Regions from separate parts of the Homo sapiens genome. Here region 1 is linked to region 2. The links come from fine-mapping of genetic effects on gene expression. Tissue or cell type: whole blood. Region 2 holds a variant in brackets; the other region holds the start of a gene. All regions are shown on one strand. Distances are from middle to middle.

Region 1 (8,178 bases), 24 kb after region 2:
GACACAAATAGTTGGGATTAACAGGCAAAGACTTTTTAGTGGTAAAAATCATGGAGCTGCTGGCATTTTCCATCATTGTCATACACCATGGCCAAATAAGATAGGCATGAGGGGTTATCACAAATGGGGACATTAGGCCAAATGACCTTTAGGTTCCTTCTGGCCCTTGAGGCTTTGTGTTTATCTGGTCACTGCGTATCCTCCTTAAATTCCTGTTTATTTGACATATTTGCCTGAATGCTGCAAAACCCTGTATGCACGCACAGGGACACACAATAACCCCACTACAACAACCAAATTCTAGTTTTTTCCCTCAAACTAGGATGCAAAAAATGCATGTTTAAATTTTTTGAATGGCATGGCTTTAGGTGTGCTTTGCTTTGAGGTGTATGATACACACTACTCTGCAATTAATTTCTGCAGCTTTTTCCTGAAATAAGATGTCAAAATTCAGGATTACAATTTTTTTTTTAAAAAGTCTGTTATTTTAGGTGTATTTTTAGTTGGTATCAAATGCATCAAGATCAAAGTCTACAGCTTTTTCTTCTAATTGGAAACTTAAAATTCCAGGTTATTATTTTTTAAATTAAGTTAAACTTAGGTTTAATTTCTTCCTTTCAAATTGCCTGAGTGTTAGACATGTATTTACAAATTGCCTCTTTTTAACTGTTTTACTTTACTATAACAAATATACTTACTTTAAGTTTCTATTTAAAAATTTTCAAACATGCAGAAAAGCCTACAAAATGGTAAAATGTCGCACACATACTCATCACTAGACTTAACAATGAGTAACAATTTGCCTTATTTGCTTCCTCTATTTTTGGAGGGGTTTAAGGACTTAGGTAAGATGCCTTGACATTTCACCACTAAACATTTCAGTAGGCATCTCTAATAAAATTAGCAAATGTAATGTATTATAATTAATTCCTTAATGTCACCTAATACCTAGTCCATATTCAAAATTTGACAGATACGATTTTGTTTGGTTTGCTACATGGCTTTGAAATTTACAAGTCAGAAACAAGGCTTTAAATTTTTTGTGAGCTAGATATGCAGTGAAAAGCATTGCTAAGAGTTACTCAATAGATTTTACAAATTGTGTTAAACATGGCTTTTGCTTCAAAATGTTTATAAAGCTTTTCCAACTTCCAGAAAAGTTGAAAAAATCATAACCTCTATTTAGTCTTGTTAGCATTTCGCCGTACTGTGTGCAGAATAGATTTTGTTACGAATCACCTGTAAGCAAAGTGAAGATGTAACACTTCAACCCTAAATACTTCAGAAATTTATGACATGCCATTTTTTAACACAATTAAAATATATAAATCTGTGTTTTATTTTTAAATTTGAATTCAGGCAAACTATGTTTGTTAGACTGCAAAACCTATTTTTGAGATAGTATGGATTGACTATAAGGATATTTTAAATGATATGACTGCTTTCAATGATCTGAGAAAGATTTTAAATGGTCAGACTAATATAAATATTAACATTTTCAATGGTATGACATTTAGAAAACATTTTTTAACGTTCTTAGAAATGTATTTTTAGTTGGGTTTAGAAATCTATTTTCAAAAAACTGTGAGTTAGCTAAATGTATCTGTATATACCCTGACATATCTATTTTTCCAAACTGTATACGTTAACTATCCATTTTTAATTATTCTGCTTAGCTTAAATATTTTTTAAAATTGCCTAACTTAGAAAATAATTTTCTAAAGTGGTCTGATTCAGAGATGCACTTTTAAAAAGCTTCCCGTCTCAGATACTAGGTTTTTAAACTGTCTGACTTAATCGGGAAAAAAAAAAAAACCCTCATGTTACCCAAAGGTTCAGGGTATTTTGAACCTTAATGATTAAAAATTGAAAAATAAACAATATGTTTTTCAATTAAAACTGATACCTTAGAAATCTTAATATGAGTTTCAGTAGTTTTTGAGGCAGCACAAAATCAAGTCATTTAAGGAACATGCAGTTCTTATTTAACATTACTGAAGTTCCATTAAGGAATTGAATTCATCCAATTTCTACTCGATTTCTTGGATTATTTCTTCTTCAAAATTAGCGCTAGAATTAGCCTGTTTCTATGCTACCAGACATCTTTACATTTATTTCAATATAATGTAATTCCTTTCCGTTTATAAATGTAAAAAAAACCCTTCAACTTCTTAATTAACTGAAATCTCACACACACTCTGTCCCTAGTTCTAGGCTGTTTGACCTGAGTTTACATGCTTTTATTCCTGAAACCGCTCACACGGCTTAAAATGACTTTTCTATCAGTTATATGGCCAAAGACATTCTCCACCTGTGACTTACAAAAAGGAGAAACTGTCTTTGTAGACATGATAATCATGACATATGGCAAAATTTTCCTGAAGCATTTAGATAAAGCCATAAAGAAAAAAATAAACTGGCAATACAGTCCCTAAGAGGTGAAATGAATGTTCCAAAATTGCCTAATATCAAGTATAACCCCCAAGAATGTGGTCCTGGGATGGCTATTTCCCGCCTGTTCCAACGCTGCTTCTATTCCAACCTAGTCTGCCTACAGCAGGTAGCCTGAACTACAGCCAGTTTCATAACTTCACTTTTCAATTGAAGACATTACAGAGCTAACGATCACTGTCTGGTATAGATCATCCAGACTCGCCCCTTATTTAACAGAGCAGTAAACTGAGGCTCAGAAAGGGAAAAGTAGCCCCCATTAAAAACAAACCCCAAACAGTAATTTTTCCAGGACCACCCTTAAAAAACGCTACTGCTAGGCTAACTAAAGGTTGTGGTTAATTAAAAAAAAAAAGTGCTATTTTACGGGGTTAATTTTCACATATACCTCCTCAGGCTTTTTTTAAAAAGTTCGAATGGAGAGGAAAGCTTAATTTCCTGTCTGGGAAATGGAAAGTGAAGAGGCTAGCACCTTGAGTCTCACAAACGCAAGCCCCCAGGAAGAACAGTGAGGCAATTATTCACAGGGAACAAGGCCACACAGAGGGCTGCGGGGCCGTTAAAAGAAAACGGGCGGAAAAACAAAACAAAACAAAACAACAACACAACTCCCTCCTCTTTGAGGGGAGGGAGTCGTTCATTTTGCAAGGATTTGGGTCTACGATCCGGCGACCCAGCCCTTAGGACCAAACTGAGGCTCATTACTGGGGGGAGGGGAGCTTCAAACAAAACGAAACAAAAAGGCTTCAGAAAGGCCCAATGCTTCCCAATGTTAGCGTTAAAACATATGTAAATTACAGGCGGCCTGTAGCGCAGTGACGCCAAGGCGGGGGGTGCGGGGGGGGGGGTGCTGCGGAAGTGAGGAGAAGACCGGGCAGAGGTGGAGCTGCGGCCTCACAGCACCGCTTCTTCCTCATCCAGGGCTACAGATGCCCCCTGACTCTAGCCAAGAGATCTTATTATTCTTAGTCTTATTATTCTTATCTTCTCTTTTTAAACAGAGAGACAGACAGAGACAGACAAACAGGCAGAGCCGCAGTGCACACGGTCCGTGTGTCGGAGAGGCCGCCAGGAGACTCACCGCAGCAATGCTACGTGAATGCAGAGGGCTGGAGGTGATGTGACTACTCACTTGCTCGGCTAACAGCTGCCGGTTTTGGATGGAATTATTCCGCAACAACAAGAAAGCGTCGGTTAAACGCCTGGTGGCCATGTCTCACCCTTTGCGACCCCCCTCTCAGGGGCCCCCCGCCCACTTATATTCCTGATTTATTCACTTTCTTTCTCGTGGCCCGGCTGGCCCACCCTTTCACGGAAGCTTCTCGACAAGGCCTCAGGCCTCAAGCCAAAAAGATGCAGCTGTGCGCTTCGCCAAGGCGTAGAGACCCCTCCCCAAATAACTACCTAGGCTTTCCAATTGTCTGACTCCCCCTACCCAGGGCAGACTTCGATCTCTAAGCACTTGAATCCCCCCAATCCTTGCGTAGCGATCCAACGTCCCAGAGACCCCACCCCAATCCAACCTTGGATCTACAAGCGTCTAACTCGCCAATCCGGCTCTAGACTGGGAGGCCCTGAAGCCCCCTACTCCCTGAGACCCCCCGGAGGTCTCTGCTCTCTACCCCTAACTTTGGCTCGTAAGCGTCTAGGCCGTGCCCTGAGGTCTGGCTGTGACTCAGTTTCCGCACCAGAGGCCTGGCCTAGGCCCTCTTTGGACAACCGGAGCCAGGCTTGGGGCCTGGACTCGAGGGCGCCTGCAGCTCCCTTCTGGGGACTTGTCTGAACCTGCTGAGGCCCTGCCCGACCTCCTGACCCCTTCCTTTCCTGGACGGCCTGGTCCTCCACTGCCAGCAGGCTGCCGGCCTGCAGGAAGACAGCAGGGCCTGCCTCCCCGGCCTTCTCACTCCTCTTCTCCGGCTCCCTCCATCCCCGGATCTGACTGCAGCTCAGCCCCGGACCGTTTCCGTGCTGTGGTCCCGGGTTCTGGCGTTCCCCCCTGGCCCTCTTCCTGTCCGTCCCTCGCGAGTGCCCCCCTGCGACGCTCGCAAGCCTTGCTCGCAACGTTCCGGGCGCGGGAGCTCCCTGCACTCCTGCCCCGGGGCACGGGAGTGCTCCGCCCTCTCCCGGGGTGCTCCTCGGGCGCCCTGTTTCGCCTCCCCCAACTGGGTCCAGGCACTAGGAGCAGGCCAACGAGCAGGCCTGAGCCTGGGGAGCGTGGCCCCCAGGCTGCAAACCGCTGCCAGGGCCCTTGGTCGCTGAATTAGAGTGGAAGTTGCGCGGCAGGCAAATTTGGGCTCCCCAAGAACTGAAGTTTTGGGCGCGGGGAGTTGGAGCGGGAGAGGAAAAGTTGGAGACGACTGCCTCTGCAGGCCGAGCACGCTCTACTGCAGGCGGCGGCGCTCGCTTTTTTTTTTTTTTTTCCCACTCTGGAAAAAGATGTATCCGACAAACAACCACGAGGAAATAAAAGGAAAAAAAAAAAAAAAAAAGGAACAAGAACTCCAGGCAGCCTGGCCGCGCCGCCGCTGGCAGTCGGGGGTCGTCGGGGGCGCCCGCCCTCCCCAGCTGCCGCTTTCTGTAGGGGGCACTGCAGGGTCGTGGAATCTCAAGTGGAAAAGTTCCCCGAAAACTTTGACACCTCCCACCCCCCTCCCCGCGAAAAAAATCTCTGTTCCCTGCCTGGGCCCTGGCCCTGCGACCCCCGCGCCCCCCCGTGCCCCGGGCCGGGTTTTCCACGGTTGGCCGGGCCCAGGGCGCCCTAAGCACCTCGACTTGCCGCCCCGGGCCAGGTCGGCGGGGTTCGTGCAGGGGCTCCGTGGGGCCGCGTCGGGCAGGGGCCGCCCGGGCCCGAGCACGGCACCCACAAACAGGCTGGCGTCCCGCGACGGAGACCCGGGTCCGGCCCGGAGCCGCCCGGGAGGCTTGAGGCCAAGGGCCTGGCCCAGCGCGCGGCCGGAGCGGGTCGGGGGCGCAGAGCTGTGCGGCGGCGCCTTCCGGGCCCCGGGCCTGTGCAGGGCCGGCTTCCCCTTGCGGGGCGAGGCTGCGGGCCGGGCTGCGGTGCGGGGTTCCAACAAAGGACCGAGGCCCCAGAAGCGGCCCCCACGCGTCCTTTGTTTCTGCGTGGAACAAACTTTACACACGTGTGTGTTTTCCGAGGGTTTCCCGTGTGCTGAGCGCTTGCAAAGCGGAGTCGCGCCCGGGGAGACGCGAAGCCGGTGCCCGCGGCTCACCCAGGGACCCCAGCCAGACAGCGGCACCCGCGGGGCGCGTGCGGGACCCCCAGGCGACCGGGGGAAGCACCGGTAACCGCCCCCCACCCGTGCTTTTTCTCTCACGGAGAATGTTCCCGCGCGTTCGTTGTGCAACTAAAAATTAATGTGAAACATCCATTGAGGCAAATAACAAAATGCATCCAACGAAACCCACATAAAATCGAGAGAGCCGCGAGCAGGGCTGGGCGAGTTCACTGTGAGGACCGGCTCTGGCTTCCGCGCAGCGCGGAGAGCAGGGCGCTCGCCCGGGGACGCTTCGCAGCGGTGGAAGATTCGGGCGACAGGGGACTGGGTCGCCGCGCGGGCCGGGCTGGAGGCTGCAGGGACTTGCTGACAGGCCATCCAAAGACAGAGAGGCCCTGGGGAGGGAAATTCGGGGAGCCCGTGTGCTTAGCGTAGCGCCCCGGGAAATATTTGCCCAATAAGGGAGAGTTTGTCCCCACACTGCGGCAGAACCCCCCTGCGAGCTCTGACCCCAGCAGCACGGCCAAGCCCCCCCAACCCCGCTCCCCCCTTTAGGGGACAGGTATTTGTAAATAACAACTGAGCTGGTCGTCGGTAGGAGAATCAGATTAGAAACATGGTCCCCACTCTCTTCCTATCTCCCCAGCACTCATCACCTCACAAAGCAGGGGGGGACCTGTTTACTTTTCCTGGCGCTCTCCCCCAGGCTAGAACGTGATCTTCTTCCTACGCAGGGACAGTGTTTTATTCATCTTTGTACCCACTGCCATCTCATCTGGCTTGGAACAGGCTCCGGATAAATATTTTTTAAATATGTGCATGAATTAATGAGAGACTCGAGATTTAGTCCCCAAACTCTCTGACCTCCCTCGAGTGACTTTAAGCCTTTAGAGCCCTTATCTGTTAAGAAAAAAAGAAAAAAATGTGGGTTTTTCGTAATCCTCGTAATCCGCGCCCTGTCTACTTCTCTGGGGTTATTGTGAAGATCAAATAAGGTAAGTGAAAACTCTTTGTAAACTACCAGGTGCTGAGCAAATATTATATAGGATGGTTATTCATTCATTCCCTCCGTTCAGGAAGCTTAGCAAAGTAATTCCTGGTCTTGTGTTTCAGCAGATGGTGGTCGCCTTTCCTGGTCAGTCTTAAATATTTATTACAGGACAATCTCATTCTTACATTTAGGAGATCAATCAAGCTTCCATTTCTTTGAGCGAAATGAACACTGCTTGCACACAAATAATGGAAGAAAAATCCTGGTATTCCCAAAACAGCCACCCCAAGCAACCCAAGAGCCTAACAGCGGGGAGGTCAGGAAAATCCAAGAAGTTGGCATAGCAGCCCAAAGGCAGCACCGTGCAGCTCTGACCAGGCCCCAAAGGCAGCACCGTGCAGCTCTGACCAGGCCCCAAAGGCAGCACGGTGCAGCTCTGACCAGGCCCCAAAGGCAGCACCGTGCAGCTCTGACCAGGCCCCAAAGGCAGCACCGTGCAGCTCTGACCAGGCCCCAAAGGCAGCACCGTGCAGCTCTGACCAGGCCCCAAAGGCAGCACCGTGCAGCTCTGACCAGGCCCCAAAGGCAGCACCGTGCAGCTCTGACCAGGCCCCAAAGGCAGCACCGTGCAGCTCTGACCAGGCCCCAAAGGCAGCACGGTGCAGCTCTAAGCAGGCTGTGTTTAGGTATGGGATTGTGTGCCTGAAATAGTGTTAACCAAGAGGGAGCCCAGAGAGGGCATGCACCCCTGGCTCCAGTCACGTCCATGGTCCATGTTCGCCCTGACCCACACTGGAAGGGAGTTGGGGAAGGATGTAAATCATTATATTTGAATGTTCCTTGGCTGTTTTATTTTCCTGTCAAGTGACTTAAGCTTGATTTTTTTTTTTTTTTAAAGCATTCCCCCATGGCCAAGTATGTGTTTCCTTGGAATTGAAATCTAGGTTGATGGTTTTACATTTTAAAAGCTTTCATTGTGACTCATTCTTGGCCTGGGCTAGGATTCGGTAATACTCCTCGGGCTTGGTGAGGCTCCGTGTCCTGTTTCTTGGGCTTCATACCCACTTTCTAACATTCTGCCAACGAATCCAATAAGTCACTTTTGGGGACAAGTGTTTCATTGTTTTCTTGTCATCTCATTCAGTGCAGGAGGAAGCCCCATTGAAGCCAGGCCATGGCTTGGGCAGGTGCAGGTTTTCAAGTACTGAGAGGGGATGGTTAGCTCAACAGGTCAGCAGTGGGACACACACCCTTTGGTGAAAACAATTTAAATGAGATAGGGCTCATGTAAGCCCTTATACAACCTCAGCATAGAGTAAGTGCGCCACAAATGGGCAATATGATTTATTACAGCAGTAGTCTTACTGTTGGAAAGCTCACGTGGGCTCTGCTCTCCCTGGAAGGCATCATAAACTCCAAAGAGAATGGCATGGTATTGAGAACTGAACACTTGGAAATCTAAGCACGTTTCCGAGCTTCTTGTTCTGGACCTTGGGAATC
Region 2 (8,178 bases):
CTAGGATTGCAGGATGTTCTTTAATCTGCGTGATTGCTTTATTGTACAAAAAGTTTCCAGTAACAGTAAATTGGTTTTAAAAAAGGACAAAAAAGTCATTTTGGATAGAAGTGCTTCACTAATTGCTTTATTTAAGCATACAAGAAAAAAAGTTTTATCTGACCAATTACGTTGGAAGGGTTTTATTACCTTTAAGAAGCCATTAGCTAGGATAAAACACTGAAAGCACTTGTGTCAAAACAAATAAATAATGTAAATAACGCTCTCTCAATTAGCAGAGAAAACAGTGAATCCGTTAAATCAGAGACACACATCACTTCACAAGCATGGCCCAGCCAGCACCACCACCCCCAAAACGAACAAAACAAGAGACAGCAGTTTTCAGTTACAATCTTGGGAAAGATCAGGAGCTTTGGAAAACGCGTGGTAAACATGTCTGTTTCTCCTTCTACCTCCACTCAACCTGAGCTGCACCCGGACACTTTAAAGGAGGCATGTGTCCAGAGGCTGCATCCAGGGATGCCCAGAGGGAGCCTGCCCTGCTAGGCCTCCTCTCAGAGGGCGCATCCCAGGCAGAGGAGACTGGCCTGGGTGATCGTTACCTCCACGGCCCAGTAGAGTGTGGAAAAACATGAGGTGCCCACAGACAATGGCTGCCAGCGAGTAAAGGGAAAGAAACCCTGAGGTACCATGATTCTTTTCTCTTACTTCCTCAAATGCTACTGATCTCTCCCCAAGTACAGGCTCAACAGAAAAATACAGTGGTTTGAGGACCCCAAGAAGTCAGCACACAGGCCAGGGGCCAGCTCCAGGCTGGGTCTGTCTCTCCCACCTTGGGAAACCCAGCGCTAAAACAATTTTTTTTTTTTTTTTTTGAGACGGAGCCTCGCTCTGTCACCCAGGCTGGAGTGCAGTGGTGTGATCTCGGCTCACTGCAACCTCTGCCTCCCGGGTTCAAGCTATTCTCCTGCCTCAGCCTCTTGAGTAGCTGGGATTACAGGCGTGTCCCACCCGGCTAATTTTTGTATTTTTTGTAGAGACGGGGTTTCACCATGTTGGCTAGGCTGGTCTCGAACTCCTGACCTCGTGACCGCCTTGGCCTCTCAAAGTCTGGGATTACAGGCGTGAGCCACCGAGCCCAGCCCCTCCTTAAAACAGTTTCTAATCAGATCCGTTATTTTACCCAAATGGGTTGAGGGAACAAAAACCAACCCTCATCACCCTATTTGGTGAAAATAAATATAAAAAAAGATGATCCTCTCTTAAAGGGTCACTTTCCTTCAGGGGTTTGTAAGGCTCAGCACTTTAAAAAGCTTGAACAGAAGTCCGGTATTGCCACTGTGGACTGTTTTTGAGGCAAGTTCCCTAATGTGGACAGCCCCACACCTAAGAGCAGCAGATCTAACTTGGAACGTCTCAACCATGGGTTAAAATCAGATGGGATGAAAGAACACCTGCAGTGACTCTCAACAGCTACGGAAGTCTCACATTGCAGGGCTGACTGATGAGGTGCTGGCTTCTTATTCTCCGGCCCTCTTTCCTAAGCAATGTTTGTCAGGGAATACCAGGTCCGCTTCCTGAAATGCCAGGGCCCCTCTAGGACCTTATCATTCCACAGCCACATCAGTAATAGGAAAACCACCAATGGCTACCTGGAGGTGGCACCAACTTGGAAAGGGAAGGCTGGGCAGGGGTTTGGACACTAAGCCCATGAGCTGTTTGGACAACTTCAATCTCTGGAATTGAGTTTAAATTTCTGTAAACAACTTTAAAGTCAACTCTAGAGAGACATTTTGTGTGACTGGTCCAAATAAAACAGCACATTTAATGAGGTCATATTCTTCTTAAACTTTTTAAGAGAAGCAAAAACAATGGAAAAGCCATTAAAATTTACACAAAGACCATTAAAACTCTACTAGTGTCAATTAAAACAAAGCCAATAAAACATGAACAACTTCAAAGTTACCATCACTTTCCACACTGTTCTACAGTTATAGGAATATATTCAAGCACCATATTGATAATAGGTAGGTAAACGATGAAGTCCTACTTTGGCGGTCTGACCCACGCTCACACAAACGAGGAGCTTCCTAGTCAAGATGCCCCCAGTCCTTGGCAATGTGCCTGCTTCCTGGGCATTGCTCAGTGGCAATGGAAGAGCCAATAAATCAAATCGCTGGTGGAATATTTTACTTTGAAATGGAGTGATGTTTGGTTAATAATTTGAGATCCACTAATCCTAAATGGGGTGACCCATTTAAAATGGCCTCTGTGTAAATTCACAGTTCATTAAATAGAGTCTGGTTTGAACAGGTCATTATGTAGTTAGTATATAAGTAATGGATTGAGCAAGGATGGCTGGGGATACCCATGGGGACACACTGGCTGAGTCTGGTGGCTTTCATAACACTGTCAAGCTTTCTTTTAATGTGAGATTCATTTAAATCACCAACTTAAATTTAGGTGGTTTTGCTTAGTAACCTCTTTTGGTTTACAGTAGAAAATGCAGTGCAAAAATTTTAAATGAGGAATATTCCATTTACAATTAATTTAAAACTTATGAAGCTGTTTTAACTGGCCCATCTAAATGTGTTAATTAACATCAATGATGGTTTCTTATTTTTCACACTTTGTTACTCTGATCATTAACAGTGATGGAAAAGCTAAATTAAGTTAATGGGGAACGGATTATAAATTCTTAAAGGACTTCTTAGTTTGTTTTCAACTGGAAAATATATAGAGAAAGATGAAGGGGCATTTTTGCCTCTACTCATCAATTTTTGGTACCAAATTTCTTAAAAACCAGATGGTTTAAAGAAAATTTTTCCAAAAATTATGTTAACATTCTGCTCAGACATGGCTGCTAAAAAAATAGCATATACACATATAATACTGAACAGCTTCTGCAGTGCCTGTAAACTCTCAGCTCATTTTCTCTTTCTAAAAAAAATATATATTATAACTGATCCCAGAACTCAATCTCTATTGTGCAGCAGTATCAAAGGTCCTTAAATTCTCAACAATGAAGGAAAAACAAAAACCCATTCCCCGGACCGCTTGAGCAGGACTAGGGAAGGAGGAGTCCGTGGATGCAAAGGTTCGCTGCCCCGACGCCCTCAGATTCCTCGAGGCTGCACCTCTGCGGGCAGCTGGCGGGGCGCAGGCCAAGCCCCTCACACCCGGGAGATCCACACGCGCGGCACACACGAAAACCCAATGCCACTTATCGAGACTTCACGCCAACGAGGACAACAATGAGCACAATGATGATGACAAATAATATTAAAATCACAAGCATCTTCCGATTCTTCTTTTGATACTGTTCTGCCTACAAAAAGAGGAGGGAAAAAAGGCCGTCATTTTCCCCAAAATCCCAAATCAAGTCCCACTCGTTTCCAGAATGAGGCTTCCAGATCTCTCTGCACAGTGACTGAGGTCTCTGCTACAGGCTACATGATTGTAATCCCTCCAATCAATCCCACGGAATTCAATCACCAGGAGTGGAAGAGCCCCATGATCCTGGTGCTGCTTATTTACCCTGGACGTGGAAATGGATTTGTTGGAAACCTACTACTAAGACAAAGCCTGACAGGGAAGTGAAAGCTCATGCTTCCGGGTGCAGCTGGGCCTGCTTCTCCCGGCTTTTCCTCCTGCAGGCCGTGGCAAGTGCCCCTGCAGCACGGGTCGCCTGTTCCCGGTCCGTGTTCCTGGAGCGAATGCACAGTTCCTTCACCGCGGAAGGAAACAACGGGCTGGAGGACCGTACCTGGCAGGTAGGCAACAGAC[A/G]CCCGGAAGAGGCCCCATTTCGACCTCCCCTAAATTTGGAAACAAAAACTCATCCTTTGAAATAAAAACAGACACGTGTGCCCCATGGATGTCATATGCAGAAAGATCCCTCTGAGGCGCGTCCTCCCAGTGCCGCTAACGATACAGCAAAGGAGCCCTCCAAGCTCAATCTGGGGACGAGGCTGCACCCTGCACATCTCTTCACCTTAACACCGCATCCTGGAAGCTCGGCAGGAGCGGGAACTCCATCATGCCTGCTAGAGAAATGCCAAAGGGCCCCACCTGGCTGGCGAAAGACGCAGAGCACTGAGAAAGGAGAGCCAGAGGACAGCAGAGTTCAGAGGGCGCCGGGAGGCACGTCCAGGGAGAGCATGCGCTGCCTCTTCCAGACCTTGCTATGGCACAGGAGGGAGGAGGAGACAGCGGGAAGGCAGCCCTGGCGAGAATGGCAATCTCTCCTGCTCCATCCCCCGCGGTGGGCTTGTTTCCTAAGTGAGCCTGCCCGCCCACCTGGAGGAGCCCCTCATCCACCAGGAGGAAACATCAGGCACGGGGACAGCACCGAGAGTCCGGTCATGGGGAGCAGCTCCCGACGCTCAATCACCCTTAGACTAGCCGACTGCCGAGCACGCGCGTGCTGCCTACAGCCTTGTGGCTGGAGGGAAGATGGAGCACGCTGACTTTTCTAATAAGTAACCCAGAACACCAGGGAAGCCAATACTAAATAATATACTGTAAAACCTCTCAAAATGATTTATAAAGTAGAACCTAAAACAAAATTTTTAGTTCCCACTAGATTTGCTCACTCCCGCAGAGAAAGCTTTTCCTTTTATCTGTGTTATATTACAAAACATATTTCACTAGTTTTTATTTAAGAAACTTCAAAACCAATGCATAATTCAGCAGCACATCAAAACCTGGGTATTACAGAGTGAGAAACTTAAGTTAGTTTTCACTTTTAATAGACAGGGCTTGGCAACCAAATTAATCTAAATGCTTAAAAAAACCCTGCATAGACAAGGTCAGACTTCTCTTCCCACCACAGGCTGGAGTCTCATATCCACCTACACATGGCAACAAGCCCCCTGAAAAGACAGCTCAGGGCTTCTGGTTAGACTAGTGCAAGGGCTGACTTTTTGTAAACCCAATACTGCTATTAAATGGGGCGATCTCTGGTATAGGAAGCGACTGATTTCAGAAAAATGGTAGAGTAGTCCAACAGTGAATTGGCAAAACACTCATTATATGGCTAGAAACTCCACTGGGTCTCAAAGATACAAGGAAATGGATATTATTTAATTTGTGAAGTATTGTTATATTCCTTTTAAAGAAAATACGTAACCAATTATATATGAGAGTCTCAGCCGTTTATGCATGTTTCTTATAACCGATAAGATTCCTAAGATGCTTTCCATCTATTTTTTTAAAAGAGAATATCATAAAAACATCCCTGAAACAGCTACCTTATTAGCACAGAATAAAAGAATTACTACTCTCACTTCAACAAACTTCTCTTTTCTCAAGGTAATACAGATATGCTGTGGTAATTAAAGAGAAGATTAGATTTTTATCTTCTGCAGAATGATTCTCCATCAGCAATTCATCAGGAATGTATCACAAGAGAGGCCCAAGTCAACGGCAACAAGCAGACAGATTTTCAACACATATTTTAGCAAATGCCCAATTGATTTCCTAAAACAAGAAGCATTAGAAAAGAATGAAATATTTTCTAAAAGAAAGAACTCCAATCTCTTTAGAATTTACTGTCACAAAAAGGAGTTCTTAGCAATTTTGGATTTAAGTGTGAGATACACCTGGAATCATTAACTGCAATAAAACGGCAACAGCCCCCACAATTGGCTTTAAATGAAATGATGAATCCCTTTTTACACTACTGTATTGAGAGTGGACAACACAAGAATGCTGAAGATCGTTATGGTGGAAAAGAACCCTCTTACCAATTCTTGATTATTTGAAAATAGTTCCTAAGATTCCCAAGTCTTGAAAGACATATTACCTTGTGAAGCTGTTTCAAACCATCTTCAGTTTTGATACAGGACTGTTCAACGTTATAGTCAATTCTGTCAAGGACTGTACCCTAGGTAATAAATGACAGTTACAGACAATCAACAATAGCAACTGGGAAAACTGAACGTCAAAAATGAGATATGCAAATTACAGACATCATCATCCATAAGATGATGTTTTCCTTCCCTGTGTGCTGCAGGTACACACGGAGGGCTCTGGAGTTCACCCTCAAGCAGTGTCAGGAGCTCGATGGCAGAATGCTGGTTAGTGCCATCACATCTAGCTCACGAGAAAGAAGTACTGACAGACTGAGGTTTCCTTATTGGTTTCAGCTGCCATAGAAATGCCATATTCGGACTTCCTGGGGCCCTAAGAAATCTATGGTCCAGTGGACAGAGGCTCTGAGCAGCACAGAAGCTCTGCGCCCATTTGCTGCCTACGTACTTGGATTCAAGTAAGCAGAGAACACCAGGTAAGCTCGCCCCTGTCATAAGTAGACCTGCAAATTGACTATCACGTCTATAAACGTGGATCCACATCTCTATGGGTCAGAGCAGGAAATGGTAAACTCCAGTCTACCACCTAAAATTAAAAATTTGGACTCAAGGGGAAGATGTTTAATTGTTTAATCTCTTAAACAATTAAATTGGAAGACGGGGACACTGGGCTATGAGGAAGAACAGAGCTTTTATTGGAAACATGCTGGATTAGAAGAGATAGCAGTTCACTGGGAACCACTGGAGTAATTAATGTAACTGGATCTTCCAGAGCCTGAACACTCCATTCTGCAGTTGGTTTCAGGGGGATCAGGACCCAAATCCCTGCTGGCAAGATAATAAAATGCCCTAATCAGATTTTAACGGTGAACAACAATTTAATTCTACTTGAACGCTAGTGGTTCCAATTGCCATTACACAATAACCTGCCAAAATTAGAAGGGAAATCTTCTATAGCGTCAGAATCATTGCTGAGCTCGGTCAGAGTCAACTAGGTCTCTAGAGTAGGGTGCTCACATGAGTACCCTCGAGGCATGGGAAGAGAATATTAGAACTTCATTTATCAAAAAAAGATTTATTAATATTCTTATAGGGAATGACAGTAGCCTATGTATATAATTTGTAAATACACACATATACAGGCTGAGTATCCCTTATCTGAAAAGCTTGAGACTAGAAGTGTTTTGGATTTGGGATTTTTTTTTTAGATTTTGGAATATTTGCATACACATAATGAGATATTCTGGATGGGACCCAAGTCTAAACACAAAATTCATTAATGTTTCTTATACCTTTATGTTTCATATACCATTAATGTTTCATATACATAGCTTGAAAGTAATTTTATACAATATATATATATATATTTTTTGAGACAGAGTTTCACTCTTGTTGCCCAGGCTGGAGTGCAATGGTGCAATCTCGGCTCACTGCAACCTCTACCTCCCAGGTTCAAGCGATCCTCCTGCCTCAACCTCCCGAGTAGCTGTTACAGGCACCTGCCACCATGCCCAGCTAATTTTTTTGTATTTTTAGCAGAGACGGGGTTTCACCATGTTGACCGCGCTGGTCTCGAACTGCTGACCTCAGGTGATCCATGTGCCTCAGCCCCCCAAAGTGCTGGGATTACAGATGTGAGCCACCGTGCCCGGCCACAATATTTTTACTAGTTTTGTGCATAAAACAAAGTTTTGACTGCAACCTGTCACATGAGGTCTTGTGTAGGGATTTTCCACCTGTGGCATCATGTTAACACTCAAAAAGTTTTGAATTCTGGAGCATTTTGAACTTCATATTTTCTGATTAGGATTGCTATGTATATATATCCTTTGAGTGTCATATTGGCACTCAAAAAAAAGTTTCAAATTTTGGAGCATTTTGGATTTCAGATTAGGAATGTTCAACCTGTATTATCATATATCATATTATTATTGCATTCCTCTCATTTAATCCCTAACAAGCATCCTATGAGGATGGTACTATGATTATTAGTCCCATTTTACAGATGAGAACACTAGAGTCAGAGGGATTAAATGAGAATCATGTAACTGTTAAACTGCTAAGAGCCAGGGTTCCAACATTCCAACCCCCCAGGGCTTTTCTCAAAGCACCACACTCCTCTGATAATTAGCACCCAGGAGACTTCAGTAAAAAATGTAAACACTGAGGTTTCAACACTAGTCCTATTATTTTAAAATTAATCAAATTTAATATTTGATTAATATTAATATACACACACACACACACACACACACACACACACACACCCACACACACATAAAGGACAGGTGCACACACATGTTGGGAAAATTGGCTCCAATTTTTTTCCCTGAAAGGAGTACAGGAAAAAGAAGGTACAGATAGTATG

The links. PIP is the estimated chance that this variant, and not a neighbour inherited with it, causes the effect.
Region 1: it holds the start of STX16, and the variant in region 2 is fine-mapped to the expression of STX16 in whole blood (TOPMed, PIP above 0.99).

What each region holds. Positions count from the first base shown.
Region 1 is chr20:58,647,493-58,655,670 of GRCh38, reverse strand. It overlaps STX16 (syntaxin 16), which reads right to left and starts at 4,388. Exons shown (of 9, transcript NM_001001433.3): 1 at 3,533-4,388. The coding sequence starts at 3,664. It overlaps STX16-NPEPL1 (STX16-NPEPL1 readthrough (NMD candidate)), which reads right to left and starts at 4,418. Exons shown (of 23, transcript NR_037945.1): 1 at 3,533-4,418. LOC107985410 (a long non-coding RNA gene) reads left to right here and starts at 6,036. Exons shown (of 3, transcript XR_005647058.2): 1 at 6,036-6,682. RefSeq lists enhancers at 3,019-3,522, 3,360-3,629, 6,659-7,196 and silencers at 5,126-5,485, 7,884-8,178.
Region 2 is chr20:58,671,337-58,679,514 of GRCh38, reverse strand. STX16 (syntaxin 16) reads right to left here. Exons shown (of 9, transcript NM_001001433.3): 8 at 5,804-5,884; 9 at 1-3,328. The coding sequence ends at 3,224. It overlaps STX16-NPEPL1 (STX16-NPEPL1 readthrough (NMD candidate)), which reads right to left. Exons shown (of 23, transcript NR_037945.1): 8 at 5,804-5,884. Among named protein-coding and RNA genes, the nearest start is that of NPEPL1, 17 kb to the left of the region's middle. RefSeq lists enhancers at 2,638-3,162, 3,163-3,688. The variant A/G (reference allele first, on the strand shown) is at 3,787.